Linked DNA regions of Homo sapiens. The protein of the gene in region 1 purifies or fractionates together with the protein of each later gene. This does not show direct contact. Each region holds a gene or a part of one and is shown on either strand. Other genes may lie near its edges.

Region 1 (5,943 bases):
AGGAGCGGAACTGGGCAAGCAGGGCGGGAGGGTCCTGTGAGAACCGGGGCCAGCATCCACATGGGAGTTGATGGGTGGTGGTGTGGGGAATGCGTGAATCCCTGCGGCTTAGAGAGGGACAGCTGTAGCTGAGAGGCAGGGTGGGGATTCAACACCTGGAGACTTTGGGGGCTCTGGCCTTGGCCTCCCACTAGGTCAGGACAAACTGACCTCAGTTTCTTTTTTTATTTTAAGTTCCATGATACATGTGCAGAACATGCAGGCTTGTCACATAGGTATACGTGTGCCATGGTGGCTTGCTGCACCATTGACCCGTTCTCTAAGTTCCCTCCCCTCACCCCCGATCCCCCAACAGGCCCCGATATGTGTTCTGCCCCTCCCTGTGTCCATGTGTCTCATTGTTCAACTCCCACTTATGAGTAAGAACATGCGGTATTTGGTTTTCTGTTCCTGTGTTAGTTTGCTGAGGATGATGGCTTCCAGCTCCATCTATTTCCCCGCAAAGGACATGATCTCATTCCTTTTTATGGCTGGATAGTTTTCCATGGTGTGTATGTACCACATTTCCTTTATTCAGTCTATCATTGATGGGCATTTGGGTTGGTTGATCTCAGTTTCTAAGTCACAACTCATGTTCCGTCTTCTAGGAAGCCTTCCCTGACTGCCTATGTGGCTGACAGGAGGTGGCAAGGACAACCCCCTCCACCCTAGGACAGGTAGTCTGGCAGGGCCTCACTGCGGTCACCTGCTCCCAGGAGAGCCACCACCCTGACCTCATTCCACCAGGCTCTGAGAAAGACACCACCCAGGCAGGGGAATGAACACTGAGTGCCTACTGCGTACCAGGACTTTATATCCTTTGCTTCTTGAAAAATGTAGCTACCATCCTATGCAGGCTGAGGCTCTGCAGTGGGAGATAAGGCAGGCTCTCAAAATGGCCATGGAAAACCCCAAGGGAAGGTGGCCAGGCCAGGGACGCAGATGCCACCTCCCGACAAGTCCTTCCTGGCCAGCGTTGCCCCATCATATACTCCTTGGGGGAAGGTGGATGGGGTCACTGTGGCCGATGGCATGGAGTTAGAGTCCTCTATGCTAAATGGCACGGGTCGACCCCCTGCCCCTCCTTCCTGTAAGTCAGCCTAGCCCTGGGCCTGCATCTTTCCCCAAATTCTTTCTTTTTTTTTGAGACGGAGTCTGGCTCTGTCCCCAGGCTGGAGTGTAGTAGTGCAATCTCGGCTGACTGCAACTTCTGTCTCCTGGGTTCAAGCACTTCTCCTGCCTCAGCCTCCCAAGTACCTGGGATTATAGGCACCCCCCACCATGCCTGGCTATTTTTTTTTTTTTTTTGAGATGGAGTCTTGCTCTGTCGCCCAGGCTGGACTGCAATGGCGCAGTCTTGGCTCACTGCAACCTCCGCCTCTTGGGTTCAAGCGATTCTTCTGCCTCAGTCTCCCAAGTAGCTGGGATTATGGGCGTGCACCACCTCACCTGGCTGTTTTTTAGTAGAGATGGGGTTTTGCCATGTTGGCCAGGCTGGTCTCGAACTCCTGACCTCAGGTGAGAAGGATTGGCCTTGGCCTTCCAAAGTGCTGGGATTACAGGCGTGAGCCACTGTGCCCAGCCCCTGTCTTACTATTTTCCATAGAACATGAGACTACCTGGCAGACGTCTTATCTGTTTGTTAACTGTCTGCTCCCTTTCACTTGCCAGTGGCATTTCAACACCACGAGGGCAGGGACCGTGTCCATCTTTTTTTTTTTTTTTGAGACAGAGTGTCACATTATTGCCCGGGCTGGAGTGCAATGGCATAATCTCGGCTCACTGCAACCTCCGCCTCCTGGGTTTAGGTGATTCTCCTGCCTCAGCCTCCCGAGTAGCTGGGATTACAGGCGCCCGCCACCACGCCTGGCTTATTTTTTGTATTTTTAGTAGAGAAGGGGTTTCACTGTGTTGGCCAGGCTGGACGACCCTGTCCATCTTGTTATTGCTATATCCCTAGGCCTGGAACAATGCCTGGCACCCAGTAGATGCTTAATAAACATTTTATGAATGAAATCAATCTCTACAACTCTCCAAAGTTGGTTCTGCTCATCCATTTCATGGATGAACAAACCAAAGTCGAACCACAAAGTCAGGGCTGGGACCTGGCAGGGACTGCAGAAGGCCAGCTGGTCTTGTTCTTGGGATGATGGAAACAGCAGCGCCTGAAATGAGGCCTGGGTTTGGATTTCAGCCCTGCCCAACCTGCTTTGTGACACCAGGGAAGCAGTTAACCTCTCTGTGCCTCTGTTTCCTCATCTGTTGCACTGGTGCCAGGCCAGTCCCTGTGACCTAAGGTCTATTGTGAGATAAAGTGAGTTCATTCCTCTGAAATGTCTGGCATGCAGCAGGAACTCACAACATTATTTCAGGGATACAGGAGGGTAGGAGGTTATGAGGCTGTCTGGGGAGGCCCGTGAGACCCAGGTTCCAGTCCTGTCTCTGCTTCTTAGGAGTTGTGGGCGCATAGGCCAGCTGCTTCCACCCTATGAGCGTCAGTTTCCTCATCTGTGAAACGGGGATGTAGAGTGGCTGCAAGGTCCCCTTGGGGCACTGGGTGACCTAGCGTCAGTGGCCTTGTGCATAACAGCCCTTCTATGGGGTCCAGGCCCCAGGCTCCCCTCCAGGCCCCGCGATTGCCACCATGAAGCTGAACGAGCGCAGCCTGGCCTTCTACGCCACCTGTGACGCCCCGGTGGACAATGCAGGCTTCCTGTACAAGAAGGGTGGGCGGCACGCGGCCTACCACCGGCGCTGGTTCGTGCTGCGCGGGAACATGCTCTTCTACTTCGAGGACGCTGCCAGCCGTGAGCCCGTGGGCGTCATCATCCTGGAGGGCTGCACTGTGGAGCTGGTGGAGGCCGCCGAGGAGTTCGCCTTCGCTGTGCGCTTTGCGGGGACCCGGGCGCGCACCTACGTGCTGGCCGCTGAGAGTCAGGATGCCATGGAGGGCTGGGTCAAGGCCCTGTCGCGTGCCAGCTTCGACTACCTGCGGCTGGTGGTGCGCGAGCTGGAGCAGCAGCTGGCGGCTGTACGTGGCGGGGGTGGCATGGCCCTGCCCCAGCCCCAGCCCCAGTCCCTGCCCTTGCCCCCGTCCCTGCCCTCTGCCCTGGCCCCAGTCCCATCCCTGCCTTCTGCCCCAGCCCCGGTCCCAGCCCTGCCCCTGCCCCGCCGGCCCAGTGCCCTCCCGCCCAAGGAGAATGGCTGCGCTGTCTGGAGCACTGAGGCCACCTTCAGGCCTGGACCCGAGCCCCCTCCACCACCGCCTCGCCGCCGGGCCTCGGCACCCCACGGGCCCCTGGACATGGCCCCCTTCGCCCGGCTGCACGAGTGCTATGGCCAGGAGATCCGGGCCCTGCGTGGCCAGTGGCTCAGCAGCCGGGTCCAGCCCTGAGGCCACCAGGGCGCCTGTTTTAGGGGGACACAAGCTCTATGCCCTCTGGGACAGGCCGGGTCCTGGAGAGACTGGGGGAGCAGATCCTGAGGGAAATCATGGGCAAGGCTGGCCCCCAGGCCCTGAGTGGCCTGGTTTTGGGGGATGCAGGCTCTGAGAAGGTGCTGGATTCTGAGTGGGCCTTTAGGACCATGTGACCCAGAAGGCCTACCCTTGAGGGGAACGTCACGTGCAACACTAAGGAGAATCCAGGGCCTGAGGGGGAGGTTTCCTGAGAACTCCGGCCCCAGGCTGGCCTGAGCTGCCGGGCAGAGGCCTGTGCTGGCAACAGGCATTGCCGGGCCTGCAGCTCAGAGGGTCACTGGGACTGAGGGCGATCTGTGGCCTGAAAAGCAAATGCACAGTTAGTGCAGCTCCTGACCAGGCCTTCAGGGTGGACAGAGGGAGGATCGGTCATGGCAGCCACACCTGGGCCTGGCCTTGCTCCGGGACCTGCCAGAGGAGCTGGCCTGGCTCTGTGCCTGCCTGCCTCCAGGAGCAGGACGGTGGCTGGGAGGGTAGTGACTGGGGACACAGGTGCAGGTGTTAGTGCAGGACCGGAAGGGTGAGGTGGCCTGGTCCTCGGGGCTCCTGGCCTGGGCTGGCTGAGGCAGGACTCTGCCAAAAGTCCCCTGCCAGGCCTCATGGTGGTGCTCCTGGTGGCAGTGGCTCTCTGGCCGCGGGCCCTGTCTGTGTCTCCGTGGTGGCTCTCACAGGGCTCTCCAGACACTCCTTGACTGCATCCTTCAGTCTTGGCCCCTAGGCCTGGGGCCCCTTGGGAGCTTGCCTGACCTCCCTTCCTGGGCTGGGTAGCCATGGCCCGAGGTGACCTTCTAGCAGGTTCCCCCAGGGAGGGGAGGCCACCAGCTGACTCACCGCCTAGGAAGGCCCAGGTGCTGACCTAGTGGCGGAGAAAAAGCCGCACACCGAGTGTGGCTTCCAGAGCCCCTCTTCAGCTCCAGGCAGCCCCCTCTAACATGTCCCCTCCTGAGCTCAGCCCCCACCCCCATACTCCTGGTGGGGACCAGGTCTTGCTTGGCTTCGGGGCTGACCGCCGGTCCCCTTTCTTCTCACCACAGTGCCCATTTTTCATCCAGGGAGAACCTCGGGGCTGGGACACCTCCTGGCCCTCACCCTGGGTCATGTTTACAGTCCTCAGTGCCCCACACCGGTGGCCCCCTGAGGACACCTCCACCCTGACCTTGATTTTCCCAAACGCTGCCTCTTGGTGACAGACTCAGCCCAAAACCCCTTCCTTCTGTCTCTGGAGACCCTTGAGCTTGGGGAAATATGGAGGGGTGTGTGTCTGCAATCAAGGCCTCTGCAGCTCACGGCTGGCCCGGTGGGCTGGGACTTCCGTCTGAATTTTAAATACTTAGGGTTCATTTTTTTTTCTCTGGCAACAAAGCTTGATGTTTTCACTGCTTTAGTTTCCTGTTTGCTGGTGGGAGGGGATACGGTCTGTGACTCTGGACTTGCTCTGGGGGAACAGTTGTCACTGCCCCCGGGGAGAGGGGCAGCTTGGGCTGGAGAAGCACAGCCAGAGACAGAGCCCCTCGAGAGGGATCCTTGGCTGCTTCATTGTCTTCCCCCCAGCAAGCCCTGCTCTCCACAGGCACCTCTGGGGTCTTGGTATGGTCCCCGCTCACCTCCTTCCAGAGTCCTGAGTGGTGTGGGTGTGGGTGGCACAGGATCTGGGGCATGGGAGGGGTTCAGAGCTTCCCAGAGCCCCGTGTCCTGGCAGACTCAGCTGGTGGGCTGGGGTGTTAACCCCAGTCCTGGCGTAGGTTTACAGACTCTCAAGGTACGTTGGCCCTGGTCTCCTGGGAGAGAGGGGTGAGGGATGTCCCCTACCAAAGCACAAGGTGGGATCAGGCTGCCTCCTGGGTTGGGTGTCGGGGGAGCTGTCCGGCAGCCTGGCAGGGAGATGCAAGGGCTAAAGTAAAATTTTGTCAAGTAATGGCTGATTGTGTCATTTTTTTTCCCCATCAAAATCCTTGATTGATTTCCCTGGCAGAGCCCAGAGCAGGCTGTGCAAGGGCAGGGACTAGTGTGTGGTCCCACATGGCTGGTGCCCTGCCAGGCACGTTCTCACTTCTCAAGGCAGATGCTGGTCCCGTTTTACAGATGTGGAAACAGGCTCACTGAGGTTATGAAACTTGCCAAAGCCACATAGCTAGAGAGTATAAGAGCAGGGATGTAAATCTCTGAAATCCCGTGACAGGACAGAGTCTTCAGGAGGAATATGAGGGAAAACGGAGCCCAAAGTTCCTTTTCAGAAGGTAGAGAAGGCAGGGAGAAGCCAAAGATTTGAAAGCTAACTGGGCTGAAGACCTGAGAGTTGGGAGGGACATTAACAATCCTGATCAGGATGGCAGATGGAAGAGTCGAAACTGCGTGCTTCTCACTGATAAGTTCATGGAGGCTGTGGAGGGAGCTGGAGTGAAGAGGATTCTAGCACCAATGCAAGT
Region 2 (6,883 bases), on another chromosome or scaffold:
TTAAAGACGGGGTTTCACCGTGTTGGCCAGGATGGTCTCAATCTCCTGACCTCGTGATCCACCCGCCTCTGCCTCCCAAAGTTCTGGGATTACAGGCATAAGCCAACACGCCTGATGGCTGCCATAATTTTATTTGCCCAAAGCATTGAGGTGCCTTGTTAGCGTTCTCTTATGCTCTTATGCACTGTATATTTTCTTCATTTTTTTTCCCCTGGGTAATCCCTCTATACCACTGCAGGACACATAGCTGCTTTTACATTTTCTCCAATGTTGGATCTTCTTGTGTGATGTGTGCCCTACCCATAGTTTTATAATAGATGCCTGAAGACCTATTGTAGAAACATGCCAGGGAAGGCCTGCAAGATGAATTCGCCACATCAGCCTAAATCAGATCATCTGTCAGGTGATTCAGAGGCCTCACCACACTGCTCCTTTTTGCATTCTGCTATTGATATTGCCAGGTCAGGAAATCATTGATGATTTTCTGAGAAAATAATTATTTTGTTACTGTCTTCCCTTTTGCAGGAAGATCTGTTTCAGCAACCAGGCCTGAGGTCAGAATTTGAACATATCAGGGACTGCTTGGATACTGGAATGATTGATAACCTCTGTATCCTTCAGACATTCAGCTCTGTGTGTGTGTGTGTGTGTGTGTGTGTGTGAGAGAGAGAGAGAGAGAGAGAATATGAGTGAGAGGGGTGAGAAAAAGTAAAGTATTTTATGGCTCAAAATCTGATATTGTATCCTCAGCTACCATGTTTTACTTAAAGTTTGCATAGAGAAGACTTTACAACTTTATTTATTTATTTTTTGAGACAGGGTCCATCTCTATCACCCAGGCTGGAGCCTGTGGAGCCTCCCACCTCAGCCTCCCGAGTAGCTGGGACCACAGGTGCATACTACCACACTTGGCTAATTTTTGAACTTTTCGTAGAGGCAGGGTTTCGCCATGTTGCCCAGGCTAAGAATTTACAACTTTAAGCAACCAATAGAGCAGGAACTCAGGAGGGCCTGGCTCACCTGACAAACAGTGTGGTCCCTTCGAGAAGTTAGGCTGGCATCCTAGCCCTGAGCAGAGAGCCTGACAGGGCAGGCAGCACTTCTGGCATGTGCTTGCTCCTGGGCCTTTTCCTAACCATGGACAGCAGCATTATCGGTTCCTTAACAATGGGGCCAAAAGCTGCCAGCAATCATTCTGTAGCCGAAGCCCTGCTGCTTTTCCTGGAGAGCCTTCCAGAGCCTGTCATCTGTTACAGCACCTACCATAACTGCTTGGAGTGTTCTGGCAACTACACAGCAAGCAAACAGGTGAGAGGAAGCATTGAGCAGCATGTGGTTAGCCCCAGACCCCATGGGGCTAAGGGAACAGAGTGGACACAGTTCCTCAAGTGCAGCATCTCAGAAACTGAACACCTTATCTTTCCTTCTCAAACCTGCTCTTTCTCTTATGTCTTTGTTTCTTTTAATGGCATCACCCTTAATTCCAGTGAGTCAACCCCGAAACCTGAGTCATTTCTGACTCCACCCTCTCCTTGCCTCCCATGTGCCCAGTCTCGTTGATCTATCACCCATCCTCTCTCTTCCATTCTCATTGCACTTAGCTTGGTTCAGTGCCCTGCATTCACGATCTCCTTCTGCTGATTTGTTTTGCATGCTGCCATCAGATTGTGTATTCTAAAGCTATTGTCATGTGACTGTTGGTCAAAAACTATACTTGGCTCTCTATTGCCAATTACTGATTTTCTTAAATATTGAAGACGTTCTATGATCTAGCTTGGTGGTTCACACATACAACAGGCCTTGGCAGAATAATCTAGAAAACTTGCCAATAATAGAGATTCTAAAGCCACACCCCAAATCTACTGAATCACACTTTTTTTTTTTTTGAGATGGAGTCTTGCTGTGTCACCCAGGCTGGAGTGCATTGGCGCGATCTCAGCTCACTGTAATGCCTCCCAGGTTCAAGCGATTCTCCTGCCCCAGCCTCCTGAGTAGCTGGGATTACAGGCGTGCACCACCATGCCTGGCTAATTTTTGTATTTTTAGTAGAGATGGGGTTTCACCATGTTGGCCAGGTTGGTCTTGAACTACTGACCTCAGGTGATCCACCCTCTTCGGCCTCCCAAAGTGCTGGGATTACAGGCATGAGCCACTGAGCCCATAATCACTTTTGGAATCTATTCAAACTTCCAAACTGATTCTGATATGCAGATAGCTGGAGTACTCATTGATCAGGGCCTGATCAACCCTTCTAATTATGCTCCTGCCAAAATTGACTTCTCATAAAGTGTTCTCTCTACTTACTTCACTATTTCCCTTCTCCTGCCCTTTTTTTATACTTTCTTTGCTCTCACCCCAGTTATTAACCTCTGTAAGTCCCATTTTGTCTTACATTCAAGACCCAACTAAAATGTCTTATTTCTTTCAGTCTTATAGGAACATGTAGTTAAAAGTTTGACTTCTAAATTCATGTTGCATTTGACCCGTACCTCTCTTTTGATACTTATGCCAAGTGGTAAGCAACCAGTTTTCTGTGCACAGTCTTTCTCGTGCACTTGGATCGTGTATACAGTTCTTGGACTATAGTAGGCACTTGAGAAATGATTCAGTGAACAAAAGACAAATCCCGGTTCTTCCTCTTTCAGGTCATTTCTACTCTCCCCATATTCCACAAAAATGTCTTCCACTACTTGATGGCGTTTTTGCGAGAACTGCTGAAAAATTCAGCAAAAAATCATTTGGATGAGAATATTCTAGGTAAGCAGCCAAATGTCTATGGAAAGCATTTCTGCAAACTGAGAGACTCGTAATGAGAAATGAGGTTGAGGAGGGTCCCAGGTCCCTTGCAGTAGAACTAAAATATCAAGCTCTGGGCAAAGATTTTTTAAAGCAGAAAGTTTTGCGTTTGGACACTCCTCCCCACTCCTAACAACACAAGAGTAAGTATAGTCATGGGCTGGGGGCGGTGGCTCACACCTGTAGTCCTAGCACTTTGTGAGGCTCAGGTGGACGGATCACCTGAGGTCAGGAGTTCAAGACCAGCCTGGCCAACATGGTGAAACCCCATCTCTACTAAAAATACAAAAATTAGCTGAGTGTGGTGGTGCATGCCTGTAATCCCAGCTAAACGGGAGGCTGAGTTAGGAGAATCGCTTGAAACTGGGAGGCGGAGGCTGCAGTGACCCGAGACCGCACCACTGCACTCCAGCCTGGGCGACAGAGTGAGACTCCATCTCAAAAAAAAAAAAAAAAGTATAGTCATGTACCATATAACATCTTGGTCAACGAAAGACCACATATACGATGGAGGGCCCATAAGATTATAATACCGTGGTTTTGTGCGTGTGTGTTTGTGTGTGCATGTGTGTGTGTGTGTGTGCTTGAGAAAGTCTCACTCTGTCACCCAGGCTGGAGTGCAGTGGTGTGATCTCAGCTCACTGCAACCTCTGCCTCCTGGGTTCAAGTGATTCTTGTGCCTCGGCCTCCTGAGTAGCTGGGATTATAGGCGCTTGCCACTATGCCCAGCTTTTTAATTTAATTTAATTTAATTTTTTAGAGATGGAGTCTCGCTCTGTCGCCAGGCTGGAGTGCAGTGGCGTGATCTCAGCTCACTGCATCCTCCGCCACCCGGGTTCAAGCAATTCTCCTGCCTCAGCCTCCCGAGTAGCTGGGACTACAGGCGCGCACCACCATGCCCAGCTAATTTTTGTATTTTTATTAGAGACAGGGTTTTACCATGTTGGCCAGGATGGTCTCAATCTCTTGACCTCGTGATTCCACCCGCCTCGGCCTCCCAAAGTGCTGGGATTACAGGCCTGAGCCACCGCACCCTGCCTTTTTTTTTTTTTTTTTTTTAAAGGGCAGTGACCCTCCCCACTGCAGGATGGGAGAGGGCTGGGAGCCAGTGGGAGCCAGATGGTCACCCAGGCCCTCACAGCCAACCCTTGGACAGGGGCCACCGGGCCACACCCTCCAACGCCCGTGCCTCAACCATCCCTACCACGCTCATGGAACCTCATCGCATCCTGGGGACGAGCCCCCACTGGGGACACGGGGTGGTTGGGGGAGGAGGCAGGAACCAGAGAGGCAGGACACCAAGCAGGGCTGCCTCCCCCACAACCCCCCAACCTCAGCCACCTCTGACACAGCACCATTCCCCTTGGAAAGCCCACTGGCAGGGACAGGCTAATTTTTGTTATTTTTAGTAGAGATGGGGTTTTACCATGTTGGCCTAGCTGGTCTTGAACTCCTGGCCTCTAGTGATCTGCCCGCTTTGGCTTCCCAAAGTGCTGGGATTATAGGTGTGAGCCACCACACCCAGCTCATAATACCGTATTTTTGATGTGCCTTTCCTATGTTTAGATATATTTGGATGCACAAATACTTAGCACTGTGTTACAATTGCCTGTAGTATTCAGTATAGTAACATGCTGTACAGGAGCTTAGGAGCAATAGACTATACCATCTAGAATTGTGTAAGTACAGGTTTGTGAAAGTTTAAGTACACGCTATGATGTTTGCACAATGATGAAATCACCTAATGACACATTTCTCAGAACATATCCCTGTCGTTAAGTGATGTGTGTCTTTAGTACCTTCTTTTGCTGAATCATTTCTTTTCTGTGTTTTTTCTTGCAGCTAGCATATTTGGCAGCTTATTGCTTCGAAACCCAGCTGGTCACCAAAAGCTTGATATGACAGAGAAGAAGAAGGCTCAAGAATTTATTCACCAGTTCCTCTGCAACCCACTCTGAGCCTCTCTCTCCTCCTATTTTACTTGAGGCTGCCAATTACCAGCCCCACCTGTTTCAGCTCAAGAGATGCCTTAAGATAATTATGTGAGGCCACTTGGTAGCAAGAATGGCAGCTATTTCCTGAGCCTAGTACCCCAATTAAGCCCACCATTGGTTAGCACACTCAGCGCTGTGAGTCGTGAAGACACGGGAGAAAATCCACCATAATAAAACTGACATTCAATTTTCAACTTTAGTTATTTAACACAGATTTTTTTATTTTTTATTTTTTTTTATTTTGAGACGGAGTTTTGCTCTGTCGCGCAGGGTGGAGTGCGGTGGCACGATCTCGGCTCACTGCAACCTCTGCCTCCTGGGTGCAAGCAATTATCCTGCCTCAGCCTCCCGAGTAGCTGGGACTGCAGGCACACACTGCCACGCCCAGCTAATTTTTTGCATTTTAGTAGAGACGGGGTTTCACCGTGTTGCCCAGGCTGTTCTAAAACTCCTGAACTCAGGTAATCTGCCTGCCTCGGCCTCCCCAAGTGCTAGGATTACAGATGTGAGCCACCACGCCCGGCCTTTTTTTTTTTTTTTTCTTTTTTGAGATGGAGTTTCACTCTTGTTGCCCAGGCTGGAGTGCGTTGGCGTGGTCTTGGCTCACTGCAACCTCTGCCTCCTTGGTTCAAGCAATTCTCCTGCCTCAGCCTCTCGAGTAGCTGGGATTATAGGCGTCCGCCACCATGCCTGGCTAATTTTTTTGTGTGTTTTTAGTATAGACACGGTTTCACCATGTTGGCCAGGCTGGTCTCGAATGCCTGGCCTCAGGTGATCCACCTGCCTTGGCCTCCCAAAGTGCTGGGATTACAGGCATGAACCACCACGCCTGGCCTAAAATGTTTTTAAATAACTGTACTTGTACTCACTCACCCTACCTCCAGGGCATAGTCAGTCTGGGCTGAGATCCCCATGATCAGATATTTGATGGAAAGTCCTGAAAGGCCAATGAGTTGGATGGCAAGAATGCAGGCAGAAGCTGCTGGATAAAATAGGCTACAGCCACCTCAGATGCTTTCAGTGCTCTGTCTGAGGATGTGTATATGCATATGCAAACTCGACCCCCGTTCCTGCCCAGATAATGGCTCAATAACTCTGAGGCTGGTTGCTCAGCCTCTGAGGGCAATACAGGCATTTAAAAAATTAAAATGACCAGGCACAGTGGCTCACGCCTGTAATCTCGGCACTTTGGGAGACTGAGGTGGGAGCATCACTTGAGACCAGGAGTTTGGGACCAGGCTGGGCAACACAGGGAGACCCCCTCTCTACAAAAACATTTTTAAAAAATTAGCTGGGTGTGGTGATGCATGCCTGTGGTCCCAGTTACTTGGGAGGCTGACGTGGGTGGCTCACTTGAGCACAGGAGTTTGAGGCTGCAGTGACCTATGACCACATCACTGTACGCCAGCCCGGGTGAGAGAGGGAGACCCCGTCTCTAAAAATAAAATGTAAAATCACTGAAAAAATGAGTGTTCGGTGAAACAAGTGGGATTTTCTGGGCCAGCAAGTCTTCCAAACTGTATATGATGCATCCTGTCTCCATGTGTAATATATTTTAATGATAAATGTATTTTTAACAGTGGCGGTTGTGTATGTTTTTATGTCTTAAGAGATGGCAGTTCGCTGCAGCTGGATTTTGTGGCTCAAGCCTTGGGGCCAAAGAGACATATTCCTGGCAGTCTGGTGGGTACCAGTCACTATTCACATACTTCCAGCAAGAAATGGTTATGGCACTGACCTGAACCCCTTGACCCCTGGTCTGGTCTTTGGAGTTGTCCCACTCTGAATATTCGAGAGAAGCAGCTTATGGTTAAAACAGGCAGTGGCAGCTGGGAGGATCTAACAGCTAGATCCTCCAGGCATTTGGAAAGGACAGGGGCATAACGAAGGCAGAATCGCTTCCTGGGTACGAATGCCCACTACTTCTGGGCACTGTGAAATGGGTTTAAGACGCGGGCCAGCAGGACAATGTGAACGGTGAAAGGAAGGGAGTGGCCGGTAGGTGGCGCTAACTGGCCCGGGCATGAGTCCCGCCGTAGCCGCGTCCTCTTGCAGGGGAAGAAAGTTGGGACCGCCAGCCTGGGCAAGCGCGT
Region 3 (7,026 bases), on another chromosome or scaffold:
CTGCTTGTGGCCAGGCATGGTGGCTCACGCCTGTAACCCCAGCACTTTGGGAGGCCGAGGCAGGTGGATCACTTGAAGCCAGGAGTTCGAGACCAGCCTAGCCAACTTTGCGAAACCCCGTCTCTACTAAAAATACAAAACTCAGGCATGATGGCACACACTTGTAATCCCAGCTACTTGGGGACCCCCCCCCCCCACAGACAAACATGCCGCACCTGTGGCAGTAACTAGGCTTGAGCCCGACTGTCTTTCCTCCCCTGGTTCTGGCAGGAGAGGCGGGAGATTTTTGAGCAGCACCTGAAGAGCCTGAAGCTGACCCAGTCCAGCACCTTTTACTCCCAGCGTCTGGCAGAGCTGACACCAGGATTCAGTGGTACGTTCTCAACCCGCAGCCTGGGCAGCGTCACGTCCTGAGGGCAGGTGGTGTCACCTGCGCAAACAGCATCGAGGCCTCCTCTGTGGGGTGGGCGCTGCTCCTTCTCTGGGGGCCTCTGCTCAGTACAAGCCTGGGAGGGAGCTGATGTGTATGTGGGGCAGCAGGAGGTCCAGACGGCACCCGCACTCCGTCCTCCGCCCCGGGGTGGAAAAGCAGACGGTGGTTCCCGGTCTGTGTTGTTTCCAGAGATAGTGGAGTTATGTTGCTTCCACACAGTGACCAGTCATGCCGGCGTTTCCCGTCAGACCCAGAGTCAGACCACGCAGTCCCGGCAAAGCCGCCTCCCTCTGACCCTCACGGTCTCTGTCAAGTTGTAGAAATAGAAATCATACCTCAAGATGCTTTTCCTGCTGTGTGGTTCACATTTTAAAAGTTAATGTCAACAAACCTCCCTTTTATTATGAGATGAATTTGCCCTTTGATTATTCGTTAGGGTCTTTCACTAGAATTTTGTGGTTACTAGAGAGCCTTTAATTTCTTTGCCATCAATGCTCATGAGCTGTTAGGTGGAATCAGCCACAAGATGGGGTGTGGAACTAACTGCCCTTGGGAGGAGAGACGGGCGTCAGGGCGGATGGAGCCTGGCGGTTCTGTGTCTCGTCTGTGGAATGGCCTCAGTGGAACACGGTGCAAGTGCCTGCCGCTCTCCCCACCCCTGCTCCTGGCGCCGGCGCCTGCCGCTCTCCCCAGCTCTGCTCCTGGCGCCAGCTCCCCGTGCCTCTCTCCCAGACGCTCTCACCAGCACTCTTGGTTCTTGGTCTCTTTTCCCTCTTTGTTCTTCCTTTTATTTATTTACTTATTTATTTTGAGACAGAGTCCTACTCTGTCGCCCAGACTGGAGTGCAGTGGCGTGATCTTGGCTCCCCGCAGCCTCCGCCTCCTGGGTTCAACCGATTTTCCTGCCTCAGCCTCCTGAGTAGCTGGGATTACAGGCGCTCACCACCACGCCCGGCTAATTTTTGTATTTTTAGTAGCAATAGGGTTTCACCCTGTTGGCCAGGCTGGTCTCAAACTCCTGACCTCAGGTGATCTGCCCACCTCAGCCTCCCAAAGTGCTGGGATTACAGGGGTGAGCCACCATGCCCGGCCATCTTTGTTCTCCCTTGAGGGCCCCTTCCTCCTCTTAAGCCCTGATAGCAGAAACCCACCCACCCACACCGTGGCTGTTTGTGTTGACAGGGGCTGACATCGCCAACATCTGCAATGAGGCTGCGCTGCACGCGGCGCGGGAGGGACACACTTCCGTGCACACTCTCAACTTCGAGTACGCCGTGGAGCGCGTCCTCGCAGGTACAGGGGGCGCGCCCTGGGTGAAGGCCCTCCTTAGCAGGGCTTGAACCCCAGAAATACCCAGGCAGGTATTGAGAGGTGAGGTGGATGGAACCATCACACAGGAAGGAACACACGTTGCGTTTCAGTTCTGCGTAACTCATGTCTTTATGATACCTTGTACTTTTCCTTAGTTTAAAATATCACAGATTTACCTAAGAGTAGACGCTCGTCCAACAGAAATAAAAAATGCCTTGCCAAAGAAAGTGAAAAAATAAAAATAAAAAATGCCCCCCAAAAATAAAAATAATAAAAACTAAAAATGTCTTGCCAGCCTGGGTGTGGTGGGCTCAGCCTAGCCCCAGCCTCATGGGGGCTGAGCTCCAGCCGCTGACTGTGGGCCGGAGGGCTGCTGCCGCCCGTGGCTGTGGAGGGACAGCCGTGCTTTCAGCGCAGCAGGGGCTCTGCGGAGAGGTGTGGATCTGCAGCACCACCTCTGGTGAAACTCATGGTCCCGACCGTCAGTAGGAACGGGAGATGAGTTTTGGTGACGGGTGACCGGTGGGCTGACCGCCTCTGACTGCCGTTCCGTGGCTGCTCAGTGTGGGGTCTGCGACGTCTGTGAGGAGAGAGGACCAAACTGGGAATCGGAGCTGCTGGAGGTTTCCATAGCTATGATGGCAACACCCAGACGTGATCAGTCATCTCATGGAATGGAGTTCAGACCCGCACTGTCAGTGTGAGACAGGTTGAACGTTTGAAAAGGGAAGTGGTTCTTGCCCCAGGTGTTTGAGGAGCACGAGCCTCCTTTGCGAGCTATCCCTGCGAGAACCGAGTTCCTCACCCTCAATTCGAGTGAATTCCTAGCACGAACACGCCTCTTGCAGGTCCCCAGGGCTTCAGCTTGGGAAAGCAGTGGGTTCCTGCAGAGGAGTGGGGCAGCTGCTGTGCCAGACACTGCAAAACACACCTGGCTTCTCTCCGACAGCCCTGCGGGTCGAGAGGACTGGCGCTGCCTGTGTCTTACTGAAATTTATTTTCGTGTAACCATTTACTTTTATGTGGAAATCGAAAAGCTTTTGATAATAGTAGCAAAGCAGGAAGGACTGAGTGGGAACCACAAGCCAGTTGAAAGAAAATACATGACGTACTTGAGTGCTCAGGACCACGAGCTGATTCAAGTTGTACAGAATGGACACTTACAGATGTGTGGAAAATCTGAGACAGGAAATGAAGCCTCACCAGTAAGCTGAACAGGGGAGATTTAATGCAAACATTTGTCCCTGGCTGGGCACTGTGGCTCATGCCTGTAATCCCAGCACTTTGGGGGCTGAGGCAGGAGGGTTGCTTGAGGCCAGGAGTTTGAGACCAGCCTGGGCAATACAGCAAGACCCCATCTCTTAAAAGAAAAGAATAAAGAGTATTAGCCAGGCATGGTGGTGGAGCACACCTCTGGTCTCAGCTACTCAGGAGGCTGCAGCAGGAGGATTGCTTGAACCTGGGAGGTTGAAGCAACAGTGAGCCGTGATCGCACCACTGCCCTCCAGCCTGGGCAACAGAGTGAGACCCTGTCACTGACAGAAAAAAAGCCTTGTCCCTGAGGCAAAAAGCTTCTGAAGGGGTGAGTAGAAGCCATAAGGATCCAGAAAGTGATGGGGATGGGAGCTGCGCCTCCAGGTCTGAGGGGAGAGGGAAAGTAAGCAGGAGGCCCGTAACTCAGAGGAGGCCTCTGCCCATCCTGCCAGGGAGAAAGTCAAAAGCTGCTGTTCTGTGACCCTTGCCCCGACCCTGTGGCACCCCCCCAACCATGGGGCAGGAGGAGACACTCCTCAGAGGGTTGCACTTGTTCCTAAAAGCAGCAGGAGCTATTTCGATGATTGCAACATTTATAAAAGAAGAAATCACGACCTCCTTCAACAGCCCTTTGACCTGAAGAGTGTCGTTTTGAGTTGGGGTGTCCAGAGCCGCAGCTGCAGCTCCAAGAGGCAGATGTGCAGAGAGAGGCTTGCTTTGACCACACGGGGCAGGAGCAGGGCCCAGCCAGGGAGAGGCCGGGGTCTCAGCTCACCCCCCCGTCATTCTTTTTTGTTTGTTTTTTGAGACGGAGTCTTGCTCTGTCGCCCAGCCTGGAGTGCAGTGGCATGATCTTGCCCTACTGTAACCTCCGTCTCTCAGGTTCAAGTGATTCTCTTGCCTCAGCCTCCCAAGTAGCTGGGACTGCAGGCGCCCGCCATCACACCTAGCTAATTTTTCTATTTTTAGTAGGGACGGGGTTTCACCATATTGGTCGGGCTGGTCTCGAACTCCTGTCCTCAGGTCATCCGCCCGCCTTGGCCTCCCACAGCGCTGGGATTACAGGCGTGAGCCACCGCGCCCAACTCATACCCCGGCATTCTTTCAGGGACTGCCAAAAAGAGCAAGATCCTGTCCAAGGAAGAACAGAAAGTGGTTGCGTTTCATGAGTCGGGCCACGCCTTGGTGGGCTGGATGCTGGAGCACACGGAGGCCGTGATGAAGGTGGGTCTTGGCAGGTGCCGGCTCCACGGGCCTTGGCCAAAGGTGGGTGGGGAGTCCCGCCTGTGTCTGTAGCTGACTGGGGAGTCCCGCCTGTGTCTGTAGCTGACTGGGGAGTCCCGCCTGTGTCTGTAGGTCATGTGAGAGGAAAGCCTGCCACTGTCATGATCCATGGAGCAGGGTGGGTGGCGACTGATGGGCGGGAACTCGGACGTGGGAGGCAGGAGTGGGCTGTGTCACATCGGAGCATGGTGCTGCTACTGGGGTGACTCGTGGAAGGTTACACCATGCAATGGGGTTTCGCTGCCTTTGCCTGTCCACCCCAAATGACTCCTAACATTGGAAAGAAGTGAGTTGAGTGTACATTTAAAAAATACTATTCTAGGCTGGGCATGGTGGATCACCTGAGGTCAGGAGTTCAAGACCAGCCTGGCCAACAGGGCAAAACTGTCTCTACTTCAAACAAACAAACAAAAAACTACTCTTGTAGGCAGCTGTGAACTCGATGGACATTTATTCTTACCAAATGGTGATGTTACAGCTTCTCTAAGACGTGGCTCCACCACCGGGAGTCCGAGTGCTGCCAAGAGGAGGTCTCTACTCGGAACGCAGGTGCCGTCTTTACAGTGGAGCCCCAGGAAGCCGTGCAGGTTTGAGGCTCACCTGAGAAGGCGGCAGTGCTGTGTTCCTACCTCAGGGTTCACTGCAAACAATGCATACGCTGTAGCAGTTGCCAGCTTGGTTTGTCAGTGCTGGTCTCCGTGATTGGTTCTCAGGTGTGAGTTGTAGCAAAGTTGCGTGTTAATCAGAGAGCGTCCTGCCCATCCCAGGGTCTCAGCAGGGCTGAGGCAGCGTTTGGGGACCAGATCCGTGCTGCTCCTTGGCGATGTGCACCACAGTCATGGGACCAGAGCTAGGCCCACTGTGGGGCGAGTGGACACTCAGCTGGGGGTCCCATTTATGGGACACTAAAAAACTCAGCAGTGAACACGACGTTTTAACACGGTATGTCAAGAAATCAAAATTAATGCAGGGACTTTGGGAGGCCAAGGCGGGCAGATCACTTGAGGTCAGGAGTTCGAGACCAGCCTGGCCAACCTGGTGAAACCCCATCTCTACCAAAAATACAAAAGAATTAGCTGGGCGTGGTGGTGCGTACCTGTAACCCTAGCCACTTGAGAGGTAGAGGCACAAGAATCGCTTAAACCCGGGAGGCAGAGTCTGCAGTGAGCCAAGACTGTGCCACTGTACTCCAGCCTGGGTGACAGAGCAAGACTGTCTCTCAAAGGGAAAAAAAAAGAATTTTTACTGTATTTGATGGGCAAAAGTCAGATAGTCACAATGAAAAAGTGAGTCTCTTTCCCAAGGCTCAGTGTCCTGCCAGGAAAAGGTTGTGAATTGGCTGTTATGGTTTTGGTCATTAATGCAATCATCACTGCAGCCGTTATTTAGAGCTTCTTTTTGTTTTGAGACAGGGTCTCTCTCTCTGTTGCCCAGACCGGAGTCCAGTGGTGCGATCACAGCTCACTGCAGCCTCGACCTTCCGGGCTCACACGATCCTCCTACCTCAGCCTCCTGCATAGCTGGGACTACAGGCATGCCCCACTGGTGGCTCGAGTGATTTTTATATTTTTTGTAGCGAAGGGGTCTCGTTATGTTGCCCAGGCTAGTCTCGAACTCCTGGGCTCATGCAATCTGCCCACCTCTAACTCCCAAAGTACCGAGATCACAGATGTGAGCGACCCCGCCCAGCCTAGTTTTAGATTTTAAATTAAGCGTCCTCGGGATTCTCAGAGCACTTGGATGTGGCCATCTCGCCGCCACAATTCTCAGAAGCAGCAGCTGGGCCAGCCCCTGCCCCGTCTCCGTCCGTCTCCCACTCAGCGGTTCCGTGTTGTCGAGTTAGCTCGTTGCCCCGCGCCACCTCCTTGCACACCTGATGTGGGGCTGTGGGGGAGCAGCAGAGGTGAGGACAGCCTCTGCTGCCTCAGCATCGTGGGGTTCTCATTGCTCTGAACCCTCAGTAGCTGTCGCTGGTGTGAGGGGTCAGCGCAGCGGCCATCGGGGGTGAAACTTGTCCTTCGCCTCTCAGCTGTCTTCTACGGGCCTTGTCTTCTTGACTCCCTGCCTGTCTAGTCATGTATGAGAAGACACTTCCCGGCAGTGTGTGAACAGGCACCTGTGGTGGGAACGCTGCTGTCTCTGGGCTGGCCATCTAGAGTGTTAGGATCCCCTGTTGTTGTAGAGGATGCTGCACATTTGCCTTCCTGCTTTGAGACGCTTTAATGACGGAGACCTCTTAGTCCCACACCTTCCTCCTCAAAGCCCACGCATCCTGCCTACTGACCTGGGTCATCTTGACCTTGTGCCAGGTCTCCATAACCCCTCGGACAAACGCCGCCCTGGGCTTTGCTCAGATGCTCCCCAGAGACCAGCACCTCTTCACCAAGGAGCAGCTGTTTGAGCGGATGTGCATGGCCCTGGGAGGACGGGCCTCGGAAGCACTGTCCTTCAACGAGGTCACTTCTGGTGAGGAGCAGCGGCGCGGGCCCTGGAGGTTTCAGAGCGCTTTTCCCTGCATGACTCCTTCTGTTCCAGTGCATGCCATGGGGTGAATCTGGTGTAGACGTAGCTTTGAATTTATTAAGTATTTTGTAAAAGATAAGTTGTGGTCATAAGAGAGTTGGAGCTAAGCAAGACTTCTTAGATAATTTAATTGGACAAAAACTTAACCTATATGCCAACTCTAGACACATTTAATTGGTTAATTGTTGGTAATGGCTACAGGAAACGGAATAAAATTGAAG

What was found. The genes of interacting proteins can lie anywhere in the genome.
Region 2: the proteins of PHETA1 (region 1) and INPP5B purify together in Homo sapiens (affinity purification with mass spectrometry; 2 studies listed by BioGRID and IntAct, with this or other methods). This does not show direct contact.
Region 3: the proteins of PHETA1 (region 1) and SPG7 purify together in Homo sapiens (affinity purification with mass spectrometry; 2 studies listed by BioGRID and IntAct, with this or other methods). This does not show direct contact.

What each region holds. Positions count from the first base shown.
Region 1 is NC_000012.12:111,360,168-111,366,110, reverse strand, and holds the end of PHETA1 (sesquipedalian-1), read left to right. Parts: intron 1-459; exon of another isoform or gene 460-544; coding exon of another isoform or gene 545-547; intron 548-554; exon of another isoform or gene 555-716; intron 717-2,647; coding exon of another isoform or gene 2,648-2,683; coding exon 2,684-3,433; 3' UTR 3,434-5,432; downstream 5,433-5,943. UniProt on the Homo sapiens protein: Plays a role in endocytic trafficking. Required for receptor recycling from endosomes, both to the trans-Golgi network and the plasma membrane.
Region 2 is NC_000001.11:37,860,186-37,867,068, reverse strand, and holds the end of INPP5B (type II inositol 1,4,5-trisphosphate 5-phosphatase isoform 1 precursor), read left to right. Parts: intron 1-306; coding exon of another isoform or gene 307-403; intron 404-525; coding exon 526-610; intron 611-1,180; coding exon 1,181-1,308; intron 1,309-2,645; coding exon 2,646-2,757; intron 2,758-4,638; coding exon 4,639-4,754; 3' UTR 4,755-6,372; downstream 6,373-6,883. UniProt on the Homo sapiens protein: Hydrolyzes phosphatidylinositol 4,5-bisphosphate (PtIns(4,5)P2) and the signaling molecule phosphatidylinositol 1,4,5-trisphosphate (PtIns(1,4,5)P3), and thereby modulates cellular signaling events.
Region 3 is NC_000016.10:89,546,388-89,553,413, forward strand, and holds part of SPG7 (mitochondrial inner membrane m-AAA protease component paraplegin isoform 1 precursor), read left to right. Parts: intron 1-270; coding exon 271-373; intron 374-1,615; coding exon 1,616-1,726; intron 1,727-2,307; coding exon of another isoform or gene 2,308-2,330; exon of another isoform or gene 2,331-2,395; intron 2,396-4,106; coding exon 4,107-4,222; intron 4,223-6,591; coding exon 6,592-6,748; intron 6,749-7,026. UniProt on the Homo sapiens protein: Catalytic component of the m-AAA protease, a protease that plays a key role in proteostasis of inner mitochondrial membrane proteins, and which is essential for axonal and neuron development.